Linked DNA regions of Homo sapiens: regions 1, 2 and 4 are each linked to region 3. The links come from fine-mapping of genetic effects on gene expression. A gene starts in region 3. Each other region holds a variant in brackets. All regions are shown on one strand. Distances are between the middles of the regions. Region 1 has its middle 130 kb from the start of TRIM33. Region 2 has its middle 26 kb from the start of TRIM33. Region 3 holds the start of TRIM33 (tripartite motif containing 33). Region 4 has its middle 140 kb from the start of TRIM33.

The links. PIP is the estimated chance that this variant, and not a neighbour inherited with it, causes the effect. A credible set is the group of variants that fine-mapping cannot tell apart.
Region 1: its variant is the best candidate, but not a certain one, in a credible set for the expression of TRIM33 in whole blood (TOPMed, PIP 0.57).
Region 2: its variant is the best candidate, but not a certain one, in a credible set for the expression of TRIM33 in whole blood (INTERVAL, PIP 0.57).
Region 4: its variant is the best candidate, but not a certain one, in a credible set for the expression of TRIM33 in whole blood (TOPMed, PIP 0.77).

Annotation. Positions count from the first base shown.
Region 1 is chr1:114,379,947-114,385,096 of GRCh38, reverse strand. No RefSeq gene overlaps it. Among named protein-coding and RNA genes, the nearest start is that of TRIM33, 130 kb to the left of the region's middle. The variant A/G (reference allele first, on the strand shown) is at 2,052.
Region 2 is chr1:114,534,823-114,539,972 of GRCh38, reverse strand. It overlaps the pseudogene PKMP1. Among named protein-coding and RNA genes, the nearest start is that of TRIM33, 26 kb to the right of the region's middle. The variant G/A (reference allele first, on the strand shown) is at 2,275.
Region 3 is chr1:114,509,003-114,514,152 of GRCh38, reverse strand. TRIM33 (tripartite motif containing 33) reads left to right here and starts at 2,950. Exons shown (of 20, transcript NM_015906.4): 1 at 2,950-3,602. The coding sequence starts at 3,077. LOC124904348 (a long non-coding RNA gene) reads right to left here and starts at 2,815. Exons shown (of 2, transcript XR_007066452.1): 1 at 2,228-2,815. RefSeq lists enhancers at 991-1,753, 2,614-2,783 and silencers at 2,974-3,083, 3,114-3,413.
Region 4 is chr1:114,372,538-114,377,687 of GRCh38, reverse strand. No RefSeq gene overlaps it. Among named protein-coding and RNA genes, the nearest start is that of TRIM33, 140 kb to the left of the region's middle. RefSeq lists a silencer at 3,415-3,615. The variant G/A (reference allele first, on the strand shown) is at 2,408.

The DNA of each region.
Region 1 (5,150 bases), 130 kb after region 3:
AATAATTCTATATCCAGCAAACTACTTTCAAAACTGAAGGTGAAACACAGACTTTCTCAGATAAAAAGAGAATTTGTTGCTGGGAGACTTGCCTTGCAAGAAATACTAAAAGAGGACTCCAGGTTGAAAGCAAGGGACTCCAGATAGTAATTTGAATACATACCAGTAAAGGTAATTGTGTAATTATATAGGACAGTACAAATGAATATCTCCTCTTGATTTTAAGAAGAAACAAATTATATAAACACTATATATAATAGTGGCCCTATAAATATGAAAATGTAATGTTTATGAAATTTTCTGATAATGGTACAAAGGAAATGAGCAGGAAAGAGCAAAGGTGTACGGAGCTAGAGAAACTGCAGTTGGTAAAGTAATAATAGCAATGTGTTGTTGAGTTTGTAATATTAATATGTATAACTATCACAAAAAGGAGAAAATGAAAATAGAGATATATAAGAGCAATGTTTGCATGTAATTAGCCTAGTTCTGAAAGATGCATATGGTAAAGCCTAGACTGACCTAAAAATTCAGGACTGTGCAGTGGCTGAGATTATATGCCTGTAACCTCAGCACTTTGGGAGGCTGAGATGAGAGGATCACTTGAGGCCAGGAGTTCACAACCAGCCTGGGCAACATAGTGAGAACTTGTCTCTACAAAAATGTAAAAATTAGCCAGATGTGGTGGTGAGTGCTTGTAGTCCCAACTACTTGAGAGGCTGAGGCAGGAGGATCACCTGAGCCTGTGAGTTAGAGGTTACAGTGAGCTATAATTATGCCACTGCACTCTAGCCTGGGCAAGAGAGTAAGACCCTCTCTCTCAAAAAAAAAAAAAAAAAAAAATCAACAAAGTTTCTCTTGTAATGAGAAACTATTAAAGAAATGAAAATACGACCAGGTGCGATGGCTCACGTCTGTAATCCCAGCACTTTGGGAGGCCAAGATGGATGGGCAGATCACTAGGTCAGGAGTTCGAGACCAGCCTGGCCAATATAGTGACACCCCCTCTGTACTAAAATTACAAAAATTAGCCAGGTGTGGTGGCGCGCACCTGTAGTCCCAGCTACTTGAGAGGCTGAGGCAGAAGAATCACTTGAACCCAGGAGGCAGAGGTTGTCAGCCGAGATCGCGCCATTGCACTCCAGCCTGGGCGGCAGAGTGAGACTCTGTCTCAAAAAATAAAAAAAAATAAATGAAAATACTACATTAGAAAATAGTCACCAAAAAAACTTGGTAAGACATGGAAAACAAAAAAGGACATAAATCCAACAAATCAGTAATGTTAAATATGAATAGGTTGAACAATCCAATCAAAAGACTGACTGAATTTTCTGAAAACTTTTTTTTAAAATTTTTTATTTCCATAGATTATCAGGGAACAGGTGGTATTTGGTAACATGAGTAAGTCCTTTAGTGGTGATTTGTGAGATTTTGGTGCACCCATCACCAAGCAGTATACACTGAACCCAGTTTGTAGTCTTTTATCTCTCACCGCCCTCCCACCCTTTCCCCAAGCCCCCAAAGTTCATTGTATTGTTCTTATGCCTTTGCATCCTCATAGCTTAGCTCCCACTTATGAGTGAGAATATACGATGTTTGGTTTTCCATTCTGAATTATTTCACTTAGAATAATAGTTTCCAGTTCCATTCAGGTTGCTGCTGCAAATGCCATTAATTCATACCTTTTTATGGCTGAGTAGTATTCCATTATATGTATATCACAATTTCTTTAACCACTTGTTGATTGATGGGAATTTGGGCTGGTTCTGTATTTTGCTGTTGAGAATTGTGCTGCTGTAAACATGCATGTGCAACTATCTTTACATATAATGACTTCTTTTCCTTTGGGTAGATACCCAGTAGTGGGATTGCTGGATCAAATGGTAGTTCTACTTTTAGTTCTTTAAGGAATCTCCACACTGTTTTCCATAATGATTGTATTAGTTTACATTCCCACCAGCAGTGTAGAAATGTTCCCTTTTCACTGCATCCATGCCAACATCTATTATTTTTTGTTTTGATTGTAGCCATTCTTGCAGGAGTAAGGTGGT[A/G]TCGCATTGTGGTTTTGATTTGCATTTCCCTGATCATTAGTGATGTTGAAAACCTGATCCAACTGTATACTATGTACAAGAGACACAGTTTAGATTCAAAATAGAAACAGATTGATGAAAGTAAAAGGATAGAATAAAATATGCAAATAGCACCTATAGAAAATTAGAGTGGATATACTTTAAGAGAAAATGGATTTTAGAACAAAAAATTATATGAAGGGACATTTTATAAGATTAATCCCTCAGAGAGATATAATAATTATAAATATATGCACCTAATAATGGAGCACCAAAATACATGACACAAACACTGACAGAAACAGAGAAATTGACACTTCAATAATAATTGCTGGAGACTTCAGTACCCCACTTTCAATAATGGATAGAACCACCGGACAGAAGATCAGTAAGGAAACAGAAGACTTAAACCACACAATAAACCAACTACCTAACAGACATCTGTGGAATACTGTCAACAAACAAGAGGATATACATTCTTTTCAAGTGCTAATGAAACATTCTCTAGGATAGGCTTATATGTTAATCTGTGAAACCTCAATAAGTTTAAAAAGATAGAAACGATACGGCTGGGCACGGTGGCTCACGCCTGTAATCCCAGCACTTTGGGAGGCCGAGGTGGGCAGATCACGAGGTCAGGAGATCGAGACCATCCTGGCTAACACAGTGAAACCCCGTCTCTACTAAAAATACAAAAAAATTAGCCGGGCGTGGTGGCGGGCGCCTGTAGTCCCAGCTACTCCGGAGGCTGAGGCAGGAGAATGGCGTGAACCTGGGAGGAGGAGCTTGCAGTGAGCCAAGATTGCGCCACTGCACATCCAGCCTGGGCGACAGAAGGAGACTCCGACTCAAAAAAAAAAAAAAGAAATGATACAAAGTATGTACTCCAGCACAATGGAATGAAATGAGAAATCAATAGCAGGAAGAAGTTTGGGAAACTTGGAAATACGTGGATTATTAAACAAAATACTCCTAAGTTAAGTAGTGGGTCAGAGAATAAATGAAGGAAAATCAGAAAATACTTTGAGAGGAATGAAAATGAAGACACAACGTAACAGAACTTCAGCTAAAGCCCAGCTTACGGAGAAATTTATAGCCGTAAATACTTATGTTAGGAAAGAGTTAAAATAACTTAACATTCCATCTGAAGATAATGGAAAAAGAAGAGCAAATTAAACCTAAAGCAAGCAGAAGGAAGGAAATCTAAATCAGAGCTGAAGTTAATGAAATAGAAAATAGAGAAAACCAAGAAAACCAAAGCTGGTTCTTTGAAAAGATCAACAAATGTGACAAACATTTAGCTAGACTGACCAAGAAAAAGAAGACTCAAATTACTATAATCAGAAATGATTAAGACATTACAGAAATGAAAGTATGAGAATAAAATGAACAATTGTATGACACTGTATTAGATAACCTAGATGACATGTATAAATTCTTAGAAACACATGAACTACTGAAAGTGACTTGAGGAAACAGACAATCTGAATTGACTTAAAACAAGTAAAGAAGATAAAACAGGCTGGGCGCAATGGCTCATGCCTGTAATCCCAGCACTTTGAGAGGTAGAGGCAGGCAGATCACTTGAGGACAAGAGTTCAAGACCAGCCTGGGCAACATGGTGAGACCCCCATCTCTACTAAAAATACAAAAAGCCAGGTGTGGTGGCACGTTCCCATAATCCCAGCTGCTGAGTGGCTGAGGTGTGAGAATCGCTTGAACCTGGGAGGCAGAGGTTGCAGTGAGCCAAGATTGCACCACTGCACTCCAGCTTGAGTGACAGAGCAAGACTCTGTCTCAAAAAAAGAAGAAGATGTCAAACTATGTTTTGGCAGACATGGTCTTATATCTAGAAAATCCCAAAGAATCCACTAAAAACTATTAGAACTAATAAATGAGTTTGAGATTGCAGGATACAAGATCAATATACAAAAATCAATTGTATTTCTACACACTTGCAATAAACCAACTGAAAATGGAATTAGGAAAATAATTTCATTTACAATACCATCAGAAAGATTAGGATAGAAATAGTTTAACAAAACAGGTATAAAATTTGTACTCTGAAAACTACAGAGCATTACTGAAAAAAGAAAATCTGAATATTTGGAAAAATATCTGGTGTTCATGGATCAATACTCAAACTGATATACAGATTCAGTATAATCCCTATCCAAATCCCAACTGACTTTGTAGAAGTCAGTTTGTAGGGTCCCACACTGTCACCTAGGCTGGAGTGCAGTGCTGTGAACATGGCTCACTGCAGCCCTGAACTGCTGTAGTTGGAACTACAGGCATGCACCACCACACCTGGCTAAATTAAAAAAAAATTTTTTTTTTATAGAAATGAGGTCCCCCTGTGTTGTCCAGGCTAGTCTCAAACTCCTGAGCTCAAACAGTCCTCCCACCTCGGCCTCCCAAAGTGCTGGGATTACCTCACCCAGCCTAACTATCCACTTTAAATGGATACATTTTATTTTTTATAAATTATATCTTATAAAGTTGATTTTAAAATAATATTTATTTTATCTCCCTAACTTGGTCCATTACAGAGGGCTAGAAACTACAAGCAAGCTATTACCAATTCTTAGGTTATAATATGGTCTTGTGACTGAAACACCGGTCAGTTGCTAGCTGCACAAAGTTCAATTAACAAGAGTAAGTTCTAGTATAATGAAAGTGATTTATTCCAAAGCTATCTTTACTTTTGGAGCAGAAAGCAGACACTTGTAAAAGGCAGAGGAGGAAGTGAGCAAGGTGGGTGTCTGTTAGCTAGCTTGGTGTCTTATCTTCTGAGCAGTTGGGTTGACATCTGTGGGCAGAGATAAGTTGTAACTAGGTAGTGAGAGAGTAGTGGGTGTATGCTTTTGACTGTTACCTCTCCAGATAACCTCCTGGTGAGTGGGAGTTCCACAGAGGGCATGCTTTGGTTTGTAAATTGACTGTTAACTCTTGAGAGTTCTGTCTTGGAGCACATAGTTGAACTTGCCATGTAGAGAGTATCTGGTGAATGGGGAGGTAAATGGTAAAAGGCTTTATTTGTATTTCTTTTTTTATTTTTATTTTTTGGAGATGGAGTTT
Region 2 (5,150 bases), 26 kb before region 3:
TCTCAGCTCCCTGAAGCCTCCGCCTCCCAGGTTCAAGTGATTCTCGCGCCTCAGCCTCCTGAATAGCTAGGACTACAGGCACACACCACCAAGCCTGGCTAATTTTTGTATTTTTGGTAGAGACAGGGTTTCGCCACGTTGGCCAGGCTGGTCTCAAACTCCTGACCTCAAGTGATCCACCTGACTTGGCCTCCCAAAGTGCTGGGATTACAGGCATGAGCCACCACGCCAAAGTGCTGGGATTACAGGCATGAGCCACCACGCCTGGCCTGTACTCTTTTAATGATGTTTTCAGATAAACAAAAGTTCTTATATTTAATGTAAACTAATTTATCTTTTTTTCTTTATAACTAATGCTTTTTGAAACTAGATTAAGAAATCTTTCTCCATCCTGAGGTCATAAAGGTTTTGTTTTTTATTATCTCCTAAAAGTTTTGTAGCTTTCTCTTGCATGGTAGATTCATATCCTCTGGAGTTATTCTTGTGAGTAGCACCGGTTACTTTAAAAGGTGAGAACAAGGATCTAGGTTTTAAACAAGGAAAATTGTTGAAAGTGTATTTACAAAGCAGTTAGACTCATCAGGTCCCTTTTCCAGCTGGGCATAACTGGGCAACAACCTCTCCAGATAAAGGATCCGGGAAGGGCTCCAGACTTAGGTACATCAGGTGCATCAGATAACAGGGGTTTGTACAGGGGCTAAAAAGAAGAGAACGCGTGAAAATTTGGTTCTTTTCTCCAGCTCTGGACCCTGAACTCATGCAGCCAGGCGTATGCTGCCTGGGAGATTGGAAAGTTCTTTTCTGAAGAAATTGAACCTCTCTAGAAAATAAAGACCTCCAGATAAAAACATTTGTGGATATCCAATACATAGGTCTACCAGATCACCTTATATTGTAGCCCAGTGCATGACAAATTACCCCAAATATAGTGGCTTAAAACAACAAACATTTATTATCTTACAGTTTGTCCAGGTCGAGAATCAGGGCATGGTTTAGCTGGGCACTTCTGGCTCAAGGTCTCTCATGAGATTACAGTCAAGTTATCAGCCAGGGCTGCAGTCTCATGTGAAGATTCAACTGGGGTAAGGATCCGCTTCCAACCTCAATTATGTGTGGTTATTGATCACAGGATGAGTGGGCGTCTCCACAGGGCCACCTCAGGACATGAATGCTGTCATCTCCCAGGGCAAGCAACACAAAAGAGAGCACCCACAATGGAAGACTAATCTTATTTATAAACTAATCTTAAAATGGACATCCTGTCACTTCTGTCATATTTTATTTGATAGAAGCAAGTCCCTAAGTCCAGCCCATACTAAAGGAGACATGACTACATAAAGATATTACAAATGTAGGGAATCCCCAAGAGCACCATGATTTCTGACCCCAACTGCAAGCTTGGGGTCCCTGAGACACTGTCATGTTTGACAATTTGTTAGAAGGACTCACAGGACTCACTGAAGAGGCACATAGGACAGTGTCCAGGAGAGTTTTTGTTTTTTTTTTTTTAACTTCAGCTGTTGTTTATTGATATACAGGTAGGCTCTATAGCAACAGGCCCGGAGGTGCTGCAGTAGTGGGGGAAAATGGAAGGTGGAGGGTGGAGTGTTTGCCGCAGGACAGCTGAGTGGAGGGTGGGGACAGGCGCAAATTGGGGAGGCCCAGGGGTTTGGGGAAGCAAGTAAGGGTCAGGCCAGAGTACTTAAATGGAAGAACTGTCCTGTGCCCTAAGGCCCCTAACTCTCGCTGGCTGTTTCCTGACCCCAGACCAGGGGTTGGGAGTCCTCTGGGCATCTGTTTTCTAAAGGAACTGAACAGAGTACACACAGGAAAAGAAGCTGTCATCCTCTTGCCATCTGGCTTTTGGGGCCTCCAGTCCAGCATTCCTCCTTCTTCCCTTGATTGGGTGGGACCACATGATGGGCAGCCAGGCTCTGGGCTGTCCTGCCAGAGCAGGCTGTAAACACAGCCATGTTTCAGCAAGGCATTTATCTTATTCCCTGGTGTCCCAGCCCACCAGTGCCACATTACAGCCCAGACTGAGCTCTACAAGCGTTGTTGGCCTAATGGATGGTTCGGGGAAAGGAGGTGGGACAGGCGCTGGAGCAGGGGCTTTGGGGTCCATCACCGCACAGGAACAACACGCATGGTGTTGGTGAAGCCAGAGCCAGGGCGCCACCCGGTCAGCACAATGACCACATCTCCCTTCTTTTTATTTTTATTTTTATTTTTTTGAGACGGAGACTCGCTCTGTCGCCCAGGCTGGAGTGCAGC[G/A]GTGCGATCTCAGCTCATTGCAAGCTCCGCCTCCTGGGTTCACACCATTCTCCTGCCTCAGCCTCCCGAGTAGCTGGGACTACAGGCACGCGCTGCCACGCCCGGCTAATTTTTTTGTATTTTTAGTAGAGACAGGATTTCACCGTGTTAGCCAGGATGGTCTCGATCTCCTGACCTCGTGATCTGCACGCCTCGACCTCCCAAAGTGCTGGGATTACAGGCGTGAGCCACCGAGCCCGGCCCACGTCTCCCTTCTTAAAGAAGCCTCGGGCCTTGCCAACATTCAGGGCCAAGTTCACCCAGCGGTCCACATCCTCAGCCCTGGCCTCCTGGACTGGGTCCTTGCACAGCACAGGGAAGATGCCACGGTACAGGTGGGCCTGACTAGCTGTCTGGGGATTCCGTGTCACAGCAATGATGGGGGCACGTGGGCGGTATCTAGCCACCTGGTGAGCAGACCTGCCAGACTTGGTGAGGACGATTATGGCCCCACTGCAGCACTTGAAGGAGGCCTCGTTGGCACCCACGGCGGTGGCTTTCGTGGGGTCGCTAGTAATGGGCGCCAGTGGGTGGGAGTTCCTCAAATAATTGCAAGTGGTAGATGGTGGCCTCTGCCTCATGGGCAATCAGGTGCTGCATGCGCCCAGCCTCCAGATAGTCCGCTTTGGCTGTTTCTCCAGACAGCATGATGCAGTCGGCTCCATTCAGTACTGCACTGGCCACATCACTGTCACAGATAGGCTTCCCAGCTCAGCTGCAACGCCCAATCATCATCCTCTGAGCAAGGAAGACCTTCTCTGCAGGAATCTCAATGCCTGGATTACCACGAGCCACCATGATCCCATCACTGGCCTCTAGGATTTCATCAAACCTCTGAACCCCCACATGATTCTCGATTGTGTTGATTGTCTTGATGTTCTTTCCCTTCTCTCCCAGGGCCTCCCTAACTTCATGGACATCAGATGCCTTGCGGATGAACGACGCAAACACCATATCGACATCCTGCTCGACCCCAAAATTCAGGTCCTGGATGTCCTCTGACACAGCAGGCAAGTCCACAGCAGCCCCAGGAAGGTTCACACCCTTCTTGCTGCCCGAGGAACCACCAGTTTCCACCTCCGTCACCAGGAAGTCAGCACCTTTCTGCTTTACCTGGAGAGAAATAAGCCCATCATCCACGTAGATCTTGCTGCCCACTTCCATCACCTTGCAGATGTTCTTGTAGTCCAGCCACAGGATGTTCTCGTCACACTTTTTCATGTAGGTGTTATCCAGCATGATTTTGAGAGTGGCTCCCATCTTCAGCCCCACCTCCATGGTGCTGCTGCCCTTGATGAGCCCAGTTCGGATCTCAGGTCCTTTAGTATCCAGAGCCAAAGCAACAGGCCGGTAGAGGATGGGGTCAGCAGCAAAGCTTTCCGTGGCTGTGCACATGTTCTTGATGGTCTCCACGTGGTACTCATGAGTTCCATGAGAGAAGTTCAGACAAGCCACATTCGTTCCAGACTTAATCATCTCCTTCAACATCTCCACCGATTGGGAAGCTGGGCTAATGGTACAGATGATGCCAGTGTTCCAGGCTGGGATGGGTGGTGTGTGAATGTCCAGGTGGCACATGTGCTCCAGGAATGTGTCAGCCGTGGCTGCATGTAGCTGCTGGGTCTGAATGAAGGCAGTCCCGGCTTCACTATGGGGCTTCAACATGGCTGCTGAGGTCCTCCAGTGCTGACCGATTTGGGCTACACTGCAAACGCAAAGAGGTCAGGAGCCCCAGGATGTGCAGCTGCTGTGCCCCAGGAGAGTTTTAAATGCAGAGCATCTAGTTGTCCTCTCCCAGTGGAGCTATTCTTCTCACAGTAACAATGTGTGATAATACACATGCAATATTCCCAGCCAGGGAAGCACCTCCAAGCCTTGGTGTCCAGAATTTTTATTGGTCATGTAGACGTGGCTGACTGCCTGTGTGGCTGGCCTTCATGTCCAACCCCCTCCTGAGGTTGAGCTGACAATGCATGGTTCAGAGCCCCTACCATATATCACATAGTTAGCATAGACCATCTGGCATGGCCCAAGGCCCCCAGGTAAACAAAGAACATTCCAAGAGTTTAGAGATTACCTCCCAGAAAGTGAGAGTAAAGGCCAGATACTTCTTGGGGCAAGGTTAATCCTTTTGTTGCACAGGCATGAATACCAGGAGGTGAGGATCACTGGGTGCTACCTTTCAGGTTTCCTACCACACTCACCATTTAGAAAACTCCCCAACCTGAGCTTCTGATTAGCTTTTAAGTGCCTCATTCTTATTTTTAAATTATTTTATTTTATTACTTTTTTTTAGAGACAGGATCTCGCTCTGTCGCTGGAATGCAGTGGTGCAATCATAGCTTGCTGCAGCCTCCAACTCCTGAGCTCAAGCGATCCTCCCACCTCAGTCTCTCAAGTAGCTAGAACTACAGGCATGCACCACTATGTCCAGCTTTGGTGCCTCATTCTTAAATATGGTTGGATGACCACCCATTTTAGGAAAGTCTCCAATATAAGAGAGAGGCCAAAACAAACCATGAGGGAAAAGGAACTTAAAAGGAAACAGACAATTGAGAAAATAAAACTAAACTAAAAAACTAACCAACCAACAAACAAAATAAGACAACCCCTACAATATTGCTGGAGAGATCGAATATTGGATCCATAAGACAAAGAACAGGCTAATGTAGAAAAGATAACAAGAAAGGGCCCTTAGAGGCTAAAACATGATAAATGAACTAAAAATTAATAGCTTGACTACATTTTGGGAAACCGGGAAGGGGAAATGTTTGTGTATTGATGTGTGTTGCAAGGGCTACGATCTAAGTTAGCTAAACCCTCATCATCCAAAGTAG
Region 3 (5,150 bases):
CCTATACAAATTATATAGTTTTCAAAAACAACACTTTTATTCTAGATTTTAATAAAGGCAAATGTAGCAGGCATCAAAAGGTTAAGAAAACTCATGGAAGCAAAACTTTTGGTTGAGAAATTCAGTTCATTAGCTTATTTTTTTGAAGTGAATTTGAGAAGAAGTGTTTATGATTTATACTCCATATTTTTCACCACCTTTACAGATTCTAACCTGATCCAACCAACCGAGTTATTACCCTATTAGCCCCTTAACTGGTCTTCCTTATTCCACTGACCATTTACAGGTGATTCCTCTAGGAAGCAGCCACAGTGACTCTTTTCACAATTCTGCTTTGAGTCTTTGCTCAAAACCCATCCAAGCCTTCCTATCTGACTCAGTGGTCCTAAGGCTAGGGTATGAGTACTCCTGGGGTACTTCAGTGAAGGAAAATTTTCCAAGGGGTACATAAAAAAGTAAGGGTAGTTTTAAGGGAATTACTCCATCATATATGTGAGTGTGTAGATACATACATGTATACATATATAGTTTTTAATGCAGTAAAGACTGTGGCAATGAAAAATGGAGTTGATACAGGACCTTATCTCATTCTAGCAATGTTATATGCATTCATGCCTACTCGAAATAATTAGGGGAAGGGGGAAGACTCCCAGCCATATCATTAAAACATTCCCAATACTTTTCCATGTTTAAAAAATATAACATTTTAATATACTTTAAAAAATGGATAGTATTAAGCCACTTTAGTGTTTACTTCCCTATTAGATTAAAAATAATTTTTAAATGTCAGTATTACAGAATGTCACAAATTAAACTCTGCAACTATTTAAACTTCTGAAAAAATTTAGTCAACTTACAATGTTTGAGGAAAGAAAACAGCCTTCCAAAATTCTTTCAAAGGGCACAAAAGTTAAAAAAAAAATTGAAGACCATTTCTGTACATGACCTGGCTCCCTTAATAACTCTCTTATCTCATGTCCTACTATTCTCTCCCTTGTTCAAGCCACTCCAGCCACACTGACTCCTCCTCTAACAAGCCAAGAATCCGTTTCCCTCAGGCCCTTTGCACTTGTTATGTGTTCCTCTCCTGCTCTTCTCCAAGACAGGTTCCTTCATCTGATCAACAGGGGCCTTCTTCAATCACCTCTAACCCCTTTTACCCCACTTATTCTTTTCTTCACAGCACTTACCACTCCCTGGCATGTATCTATTCTCAATCTTTTTCTCTATTAGATTGTAAACCCCTTGAATGCAGGGAGCTCCTCTGTTTTGTAATCCCAGTGTATCTCTAAAACACTATGACAATAAAGAGGTCAGGAAACATTTTTGAATAAATTTTAAAAAGTTTTCAGGAGGCTGGGCGCAGTGGCTCATGCCTGTAATGCTAGCATTTCCAGCGGCTGAGGCGGGCCAATCGCTCGGGCCCAGGAGTTTCAGCCTGGGCAACATGGTGAGACCCCAGCCTCTTCGAGGCAAAGGGAAAAAAAAGATCAGCTAAGTCATGGTGGCGTGCATCTACGGTCCCAGGTAATTGCGAGGAGCACGGCTTGAGCCTGGGAAGTCGAGGCTGCAATGAAATGTGATGACGCCACTGCACTCCAGCCAGGGCGACAGAACGAGGAGGTCTCAAAAAAAAAAAAAGTTTTCACGTGGTTTAAGGACTTACAGCACCTTTCTTGGGAACACTAACAGGAGACCAAAGCATTTCATGATCTTAACACTAAAACAGTTGTTGCACTACATAAAATCCTCCAAATACCTTTTTTTTTTTTTCAAATAAAAAGGCAACTTTCTGAAAGCTTTTCTTTTTTTTTTGAGACGGAGTTTCGCTCTGTCGCCCAGGCTGGAGTGTAGTGGCGCTATCTCGGCTCACTGCAGCCTCCGCCTCCTGCCGGGTTCAAGCCATTCTCCTGCCTCAGCCTCCTGAGTAGCTCGGATTACAGGCGCACGCCATTACACCCGGCTAATTTTTATATTTTTAGTAGAGACGGGGTTTCACCATATTGGCCAGGCTGCCCACGAACTCCTGACCTGACCTCAAGTGATCTGCCCGCCTCGGCCTCCCAAAGTGCTGGGATTACAGGCGTGAGCCACTGCGCTTGGCCTGAAAGCTTCTACTACCATTGTTGTAAGGGCATTTGTCACCCAGCTCAACCCAGGACACTTAAAGTGGGACCTCAGAAGGACGCAGTATTGGTTATATCCGTGGCTCTCCAAACTGACATACATAAGAATCAGCTGAAGGGACTTTTCCCCCTCCGTCGGCTCTCTCCCTCACTTCCTGATTCAGGTCTGGGGACTGGCCCTGGCATCTCTGCTTTGAAAAACTCCTCCGTTGATTCTGATACGTAGCAACTCCTGAGAATCACCTTAAGATGCCAAAAATAGCTGTTAAAGAGTTTCTTCCTCACTCGGTCTTTTCAGCCTATTTCTGATAGATCCTCAGTTCAAAAACAAAAAGCAAAAAAAAAACAAAAAAAAAAACCAAAACCAAACAAACAATAAGCCCCGCTTTAGTGCTCCACGGCCACCCAAAGGAACGCGGCTGGTCTACGCACAGCAGAGACCCAGGAGGTCCCGGCGATCGAGCGGCGCGGCAGGTGAAACTTCCGCGGAGACGCCCGGGACACGCTCGCAGGGACCGGAACCGTCCCGGCTACCACCCTTCCGTATGCACCACCGCTGTGTCGGAGTTCATAACCAACCCCAGCCAAAGGCTACCCAGCGTCAACGGCCTCTGGCTTTAAAAAAAAAATCTCCCTTCGGGTTAAAGAGCCGCGGCACTGACGCAAGGAACTGGCTTCGAGGGTCCGGGACCGCTCCGCGCCCGCGAACCGAGTTCCCGCCTCCCTCGGGAGGACGTCCGTGCGTACGTGCGCGTGCCGCAACCGCCCTCCTTCAAACGCGCGACGCGAGGGCGGGGGCGCCGCGTGCGCGCGCGCTCTCGTTGGTTCGCTCTCTCGCTAGCTCTCGGCTGCCGCTCTTGCTGCGGCTGCGGCTGGGGCTGGGGGCGGCGGCGGCGGCGACGCGGGCGGCGGGCGGCGCGGGGCGGTCCGGCGGGTTCAAAGAGGAAAACATGGCGGAAAACAAAGGCGGCGGCGAGGCTGAGAGCGGCGGCGGGGGCAGCGGCAGCGCGCCGGTAACTGCCGGGGCCGCCGGGCCCGCCGCGCAGGAGGCGGAGCCGCCTCTCACCGCGGTGCTGGTGGAGGAGGAGGAGGAGGAAGGCGGCAGGGCCGGCGCTGAGGGCGGCGCGGCCGGGCCCGACGACGGGGGGGTGGCCGCGGCCTCCTCGGGCTCGGCCCAGGCTGCTTCATCTCCTGCGGCCTCAGTGGGCACTGGAGTTGCCGGGGGCGCAGTATCGACGCCGGCTCCAGCTCCAGCCTCGGCTCCCGCTCCGGGTCCCTCGGCAGGGCCGCCTCCTGGACCGCCAGCCTCGCTCCTGGACACCTGCGCCGTGTGTCAGCAGAGCTTGCAGAGCCGGCGTGAGGCGGAGCCCAAGCTGCTGCCCTGTCTTCACTCCTTCTGCCTGCGCTGCCTGCCCGAGCCGGAGCGCCAGCTCAGCGTGCCCATCCCGGGGGGCAGCAACGGCGACATCCAGCAAGGTGAGCCGGAGGCCCTGCCTGGCATCTGGGCCGCAAGGGATTTGCGCAACCCTAGAGGAGCTGGGGACGGAGGTGCTGGGGCCTGGGGCTGCTCGGACGGGCGCCATCCCGAGGGGTCTCTAAGGTGAAAGACTCGCCCCTGGGACACTTTCCAGAGAAGCTGGACCGCAAGAGATAAGGGGAGCATGAAGGGAGGGGTGCCGGCTGCGAGAGGCTGGGGGAGGGGACACTGGCTCCGAGGGAGGGTTTGTGATGTGCGGAACCCGGCCGAGCGCTGGTTCTGGAGCTGGCAGACCCGTACAGTGAGAGAAGGGGGATTTGGGAAACACGTTGTGAGGAAGCGTTTTGGCTGAAAGGGCCCGGGCCAGCGAGGTGTTGAGGGAGTAGGTAAGAGGTAAGGGCAGTGAAGATGGATTGCTTTGGAGGGAGGGGACTTGGCGTGTTCACAGATAGGAGAGAGGAGGACTATGGATTAAATGGAGGTGGAGAGAATATGTTGGAGAGCAAGGGGTCCAGAGAAGGCGCCTGGAAGAAAATTGTAAGATGACATGGGGAAAGAGAAACTCGGAAAGTGGACTGCATGGTTAGGGAAAATCCTAAGGTTTGGGGATGAAGGAGAAATGAACTTTGAAGGAAATTGAGAGTTAGGGAAAGCTGGGCATGAATTTGTTTTAGCTAATTGGCCGTTAATGAGCCCCTAGTGTTGGGGCACTGTGCTAGGATTGAATAAAGTACTCAATGAAGACTTCATTCACAGTCTAACAGGAGAAACATATAACTTGCAGCAGTGGAGGTGAGTCCTCAGTACAATGGTTGTGGCACAATAGAGGAAAGGTCAGGGAAATTTCACAGGAAAGGAAATCCATGAACAGGTTTCTTGAAGAATGAGTACCTCACTGGGTTGGAGGGTATTCAGGGCACAGGACACCCTTCTACATCCCTGGAACTAAAGACTGTGTAGGGTGATTGGTGGAAATTAGATTGGATTGATGGGCTGAAAAGATAAAGGTTTCACAGTCTCTTAAACTCTTGGGATCCAGGTGTAAGGACTTCAGAATATTTTGGGATTTTTCTTTTTTCTGGCAAGGTCTGTTATGTGAGACTTTTATCAGGGTCTGAGTTAACTCTATCAAACACGTTAATGTTTCTACATTGAAACACGTGAATGTCACGCTAATGGGATAGACGATAAATAACCTCCCAGCATTCACAGTGGGTTCTGTTGCAAACCAATGAAAAAAATTAAAATTTCAAAGCTTTTGAATTTCGGGACTGTAGGTAAGCGATTGTGGAGCTGCACTAAAGGGCTTGGAATTCATCCTGTAGAGTGTATCCTCGACATTGTGGACTGAAGGATGTTCCTGGAGGGCTTTCATATCAAGAGGATAAAAGGATCAGATTTCTGATCCAGAAAGATCACTTAGGGCACTTGAGGGATGAGGGAAGGCAAGGCTGGAGACAAGGAGACCAGTTAGGAGAATCCTGGCGGTTATCTAGGAAAGAAATCAACATTTGGAATGGGTAGTAAAGGAATGATATATCAGGTAT
Region 4 (5,150 bases), 140 kb after region 3:
ATGGTGTCCTGTCACAAAAGAAAACAGATTCTTATTGAACTTATGCAAATAAGTGTACTCCCATAAATTAAGTATACTTACAAATAGTTTTCAAATTCTGGGGAAATCAGGTAGAGAGAAAGAAATACACTCCAATTTCTAAGAGTTTACTTTATCCAACTGTTAAAAGCTGCACATAGCTTCAAAGAAGGGTTTTCTCAACTCTGAAAAACAAAAAGAATAATCAAATGCTTTAAACAAAAAGTAGTAAAAGATTACTTCAATCTTTTGTTATTTCATTCCATGCAATTAACTCCTGTGCTGCTCAATATGGAATCAGCAATCCTCATGAATATATCAGCTTTCCATGAGAGTCCTGGAAGCTTTTCTCTCTATTCAGTCCAATGGCACAATCTCTAAAGTTATCAGAAACCTATATTTAAGAGTACTCCTCAGAGTTCTATAGCTGATTATAAACTGCCCTATGAAAGGATCAAAGTAAAACAACCATCGTGGAAGACAAAAGTCTTAGAATGGCCATGGTTAAAGACATAAGTGACTAGAAATTTTGGCTACTTTTATGGCATACAACAATTTTACATAATAATCACTACTGATAACATATTAAGATATATCAGGATCATAAGAATCTCATGCAAGTTTGGAACACATACTGATAAAACATTTATATAAATGTAATCTAAAGAAGGTTAAACACCATTTCATATTTCACAGTGCTTTCTGTATGATTTTAATATGCCAAATCAAATATGCCTCTTTTGGACTTTAGGGTACTGAATATCTAAAAGGAATAATCAGAGCAAAAAAAAGGCTTAATTTAGAAATTAACTTTGGAAAGTTTGTTAAATATCAAATGTTTAAACACTTGAGATTACAAAATAGAATTCCAGGTCATTATAAGAAAAAGGGAAAAATCTCTGCTCATTGATAGAGGGTAGACTCAGCTTTCCAAAAAACCCAATAAAGACAGCATGAGGCCAACTAAATCTGTCTCTATTCTCTTCCCTTTTTTTCTTCTGTCACTTGTTCAAAAGGCAAACAAAAAGCTTTTGTTATCTTTTAATATTACATGAAAATTCTGTTCAAAACAGAAAGCTGGCCAGGTGCAGTGGCTCACACCTGTAATCCCAGCACTTTGGGTGGTGGAAGAGGGAAGATCACTTGAGGCCAGGAGTTCAAGACCAGCCTGGCCAATATGGCAAAACCTCGTGTGAACTCCAAATACCTGAGACAGGTCTTAGTTAATTTAGAAAGTTTATTTTGCCAAGGTTGGGGATGCACACCCGTGACACAGCCTGAGGGTCCTGATGACAGGTGCCCAAGGTGGTCAGGGAACAGGCTGGTTTTATACATTTTAGGAATACATGAGACATCAATCAATATATGTAGGATGTACATTGGTTCCATCCAGAAAGGTGGGACAACTCAAGCAGGGAGGAGTCTTCCAGGTCACAGGTAGGTAAGAGACAAATGGTTGCATTCTTTTGAGTTTCTGATTAGCCTTTCCGAAGGAGGCAATCAGATATGCATTCATCTCAATGAGCAGATGGATGGCTTTGAATATTAAACAAAATGGAAGGCAGGTTTGCACTAAGCAGTTCCCAGCTTGACTTTTCCCTTTAGCTTAGTGATTTGGGGGCCCCAAAATTTATTTTCCTTTCACATCTCCCCCCTTTAAAAAAATCTTTTGGAGAAAGCATTTTATAAGAAAATGAGCCTCTGGTCTCAGGTTTTTTCTGATCTCTCATGGCTAGGATGGTTTATTCTTAGAGTTATTAGGAAAGCTCATTTTTAGCAGGTTGAGAAGTCTCATGTCCTATGAAGAGAAAATAAGGGGAGGAAGGGAGAAAGACAACAACAAACAAAAGAACAATCCTGGAAAATCAATATAGGCCACATTACTCTGAAGTCCATACATCATTAGGCAGTTATGAAAGTGGCTTATGTATGCAAATAGATGGCTGTTATTTTCTACCTAAGTTTAAGTTGTCTAGATTCAGTTCACAGGGATTTAAGAAAACATAGCCTAGTTTTCAGAGATTTAAAATTGGGAAAAATGGGGGGTGAAGCAAAAGAAAGGAGAAAAAAATTGTAAACATTGTTTTGGAGACTTGCATCCAGGAAAAATTAGAATTCAGACCATACTGTAGAAAATAATAAAAATTGAAAAACATTAGGCAAGACTAGAATCTAACAACAGGTATACTATACTTTTTGAAACATAATTTTTCTCTCTCTAGTTTCCCATTTTTACTAAAGAGAAATCATGGTAGGACCAATTTGCTTTATTATACTTGGCCAGATTATTTGTATAAAATGCAGCAAGAAAGGCCAGGTGCGGTGGCTCAGAGCTGTAATCCCCACACTTTGGGGGGCCGAGGCGGGCAGATCACAAGGTCATGAGATC[G/A]AGACCAGCCTGGCTAACACAGTGAAACCCCATCTCTACTGAAAATACAAAAAATTAGCCAGGCGTGGGGACACGTGCCTATAGTCCCAGCTACTTGGGAGGCTGAGGTAGGAGAATTGCTTGAACCCGGGATGCAGAGGTTGCAGTGAGCTGAGATTGCACCACTGCACTCCAGCCTGGGTAACAGAATGAGACTGTCTCAAAAAAAATGCAGCAAAAATAATTTTTTTTTTGAGATGGAATCTCGCTTTGTCACCTAGGCTGGAGTGCAATGGCATGGTCTCAGCTCACTGCAACCTCCACTTCCCAGGTTCAAGTGATTCTTCTGCCTCAGCCTCCCGATTAGCTGGGACTAAAGGCACATGCCACCATGCCTGGCTAATTTTTTTTGTATTTTTAGTAGAGGTGGGGTTTCACTATGTTGGCCAGGCTGGTCTCGAATTCCTAACCTTGTGATCTGCCCACCTTGGCCTCCCAAATTGCTGAGATTACAGGTGTAAGCCACCATGCCCATCTAAGAATAATTATTTTTTACATAGGCTTTTAAAATTGGCTTTGATGGAACTTTGTTCCATAGAAGGAATCTCAGATAAGACTTTTTAAAACCAAGCCCAGCCATGGATTTGTACCATCAAATACCTGTAAGTTGGGTGAATTTTTCTCCTCTTGATGTCCCAAGATAACTTGGGGCTCCTGGGCCTGTCAGAAAGTGACATTCCTTACTTACCACAGGTCAGGAACTCTCTACAGGGACTATGTACAAAGTATGAGGCCAGCTTTCCCAAGGCACTTTTATTGGCTCTGTAAGTCAAGTTTGATTCCTTACAGGAATGCACACCATTCCAGTCAAAGCCTTGGTGAAATAACCAGTTTCCCCAATGGTGTCCTATTTCATTTACAAATGAAAACAGATTCTTATTGCACTTATGCAAATAACAATATTGTCATAAGTTAAGAATGTTCACAAATAGTTTCTAAATTCTGGAGAAATCAGGTAGAGAGAAACAAATATGCTCCAAATTTTTTTCATAGGAGTATATTTAATTGTTAAAAGCTGTCAGTAGGCTGAGCATGGTGGCTCACACCTGTAATCCCAGCACTTTGGGAGGATGAGGCAGGCGGATCACTTAAGGTTAGGAGTTTGAGACCAGCCTGACCAACATGGAGAAACCCTGTCTCTACTAAAAATACAAAGTTAGGCATGGTAGTGCATGCCATAATCCCAGCTATTTGGGAGACTGAGGCAGGAGAATCGCTTGAACTGAGGGGGCAGAGGTTGTGGTGAGCCAAGATTGTGCCATTGCACTGCAGCCTGGGAAAAAGGAGCAAAATTGTGTCAAAAAAAAAAAAATCTGTCAGTAGCTCAAAACAAAATTTCCTTGACTCTGAAAAACAAAAGGATCAGCAACGTTTTCAGCAAAACGTCAAAAAGATTACTTCAGTCTTCTTTTACTTCAGTCCATGCAGTTAATTCCTATTCTGCTTGATATTCATGAGCATTTCAGCTCTCCATGAGTCCTGAAAGTTTTTCCTCTATTCTGATGTCACAATCTTCAAAGTTATCAGAAACCTGCATTCAAAAGTACCTGTTTGAGTTTTATAGCTGATTATCAAACCACTTTCTAAAGAGGACCCAAACAAGACAATAATTGTTTGTGGATGACAAAGAGTTTTAGGGCAGCCATAGTCAAAGACACAATTCACAAGGAAATTTGTTGCTTCTGTGGCACACAATAATTTAACATAACAATTATAATTATTACTGTTAATGTACAGTAAGTCATATCAGAATTATAGGAGTTTCTCCACAATTTTGGAACACATACCAATAACATATTTATACAAATACAGCCCAAAGAAAACCAAATACCATTTTATATTTGACAATGCTTTCTGTAAAATTTTTATACCAAATAAGCCAAATATATCATTTTTGGGCTTTAGGGAACCTAATATCTTAAAATATTAATTAGATCAGAAAAACACATAATTTATAATTTGATTTTGGAAAGTTTGTCAAATATCAAAGGTTTAAAACACTTGATATCACAAAATAGGATCACAGATCATTGTAAAATAAGTCATTCATTTAATAAAAGTGATAAGGATTTCAACAAAAGACAAAAACCTTCATTCTTTGAGAGAGGAGACTTAATTTTCCAAACAATAAGCCCTAATGAAAACAGAATGAAGCCAATTAAATTTGCTTTCCAAAATTTTATAAACAATCTCTAAAATTTTTATATTGACTACAAGATATAACTTCCATAAGCCTTTTATAAACTTTATAACATTTATTAAGGAGTTGGTTAATGCTTCAAGAAAACTTTGTCAATCTGACACAGGGGCCCATATGCTTGCATCAGTGTCTTGCATCAGTGTGCCTTTGACATTAATCATTAATTTATAGAAAAACTGAACTTATTTTATCTGTCAAATTGGCCCTGACAATCTCACACACCCATCTCTTCTGCAATAGTCTCTGGGCCCTGAGGAGTTGAATAGCTTTAATTTCTGGCCCTGTGTCTCAGGAATGCAGTTTATTTTGATTGGCGTCTTCTACCAGGCCTGAAGATGAGACTTTAATTACTGTCAGGGTTTAAAATTTAGCAGGACTTGGTGTCCTTTTTAGACCCAGGAGTCAAAGCCCTGTAACTGAATGTCACAATGACTTTAAAAGTACATACAGAAAGATACACAGATGCAATAATCTTAATTTTAAAAATGTTTATCACAGTTTTTT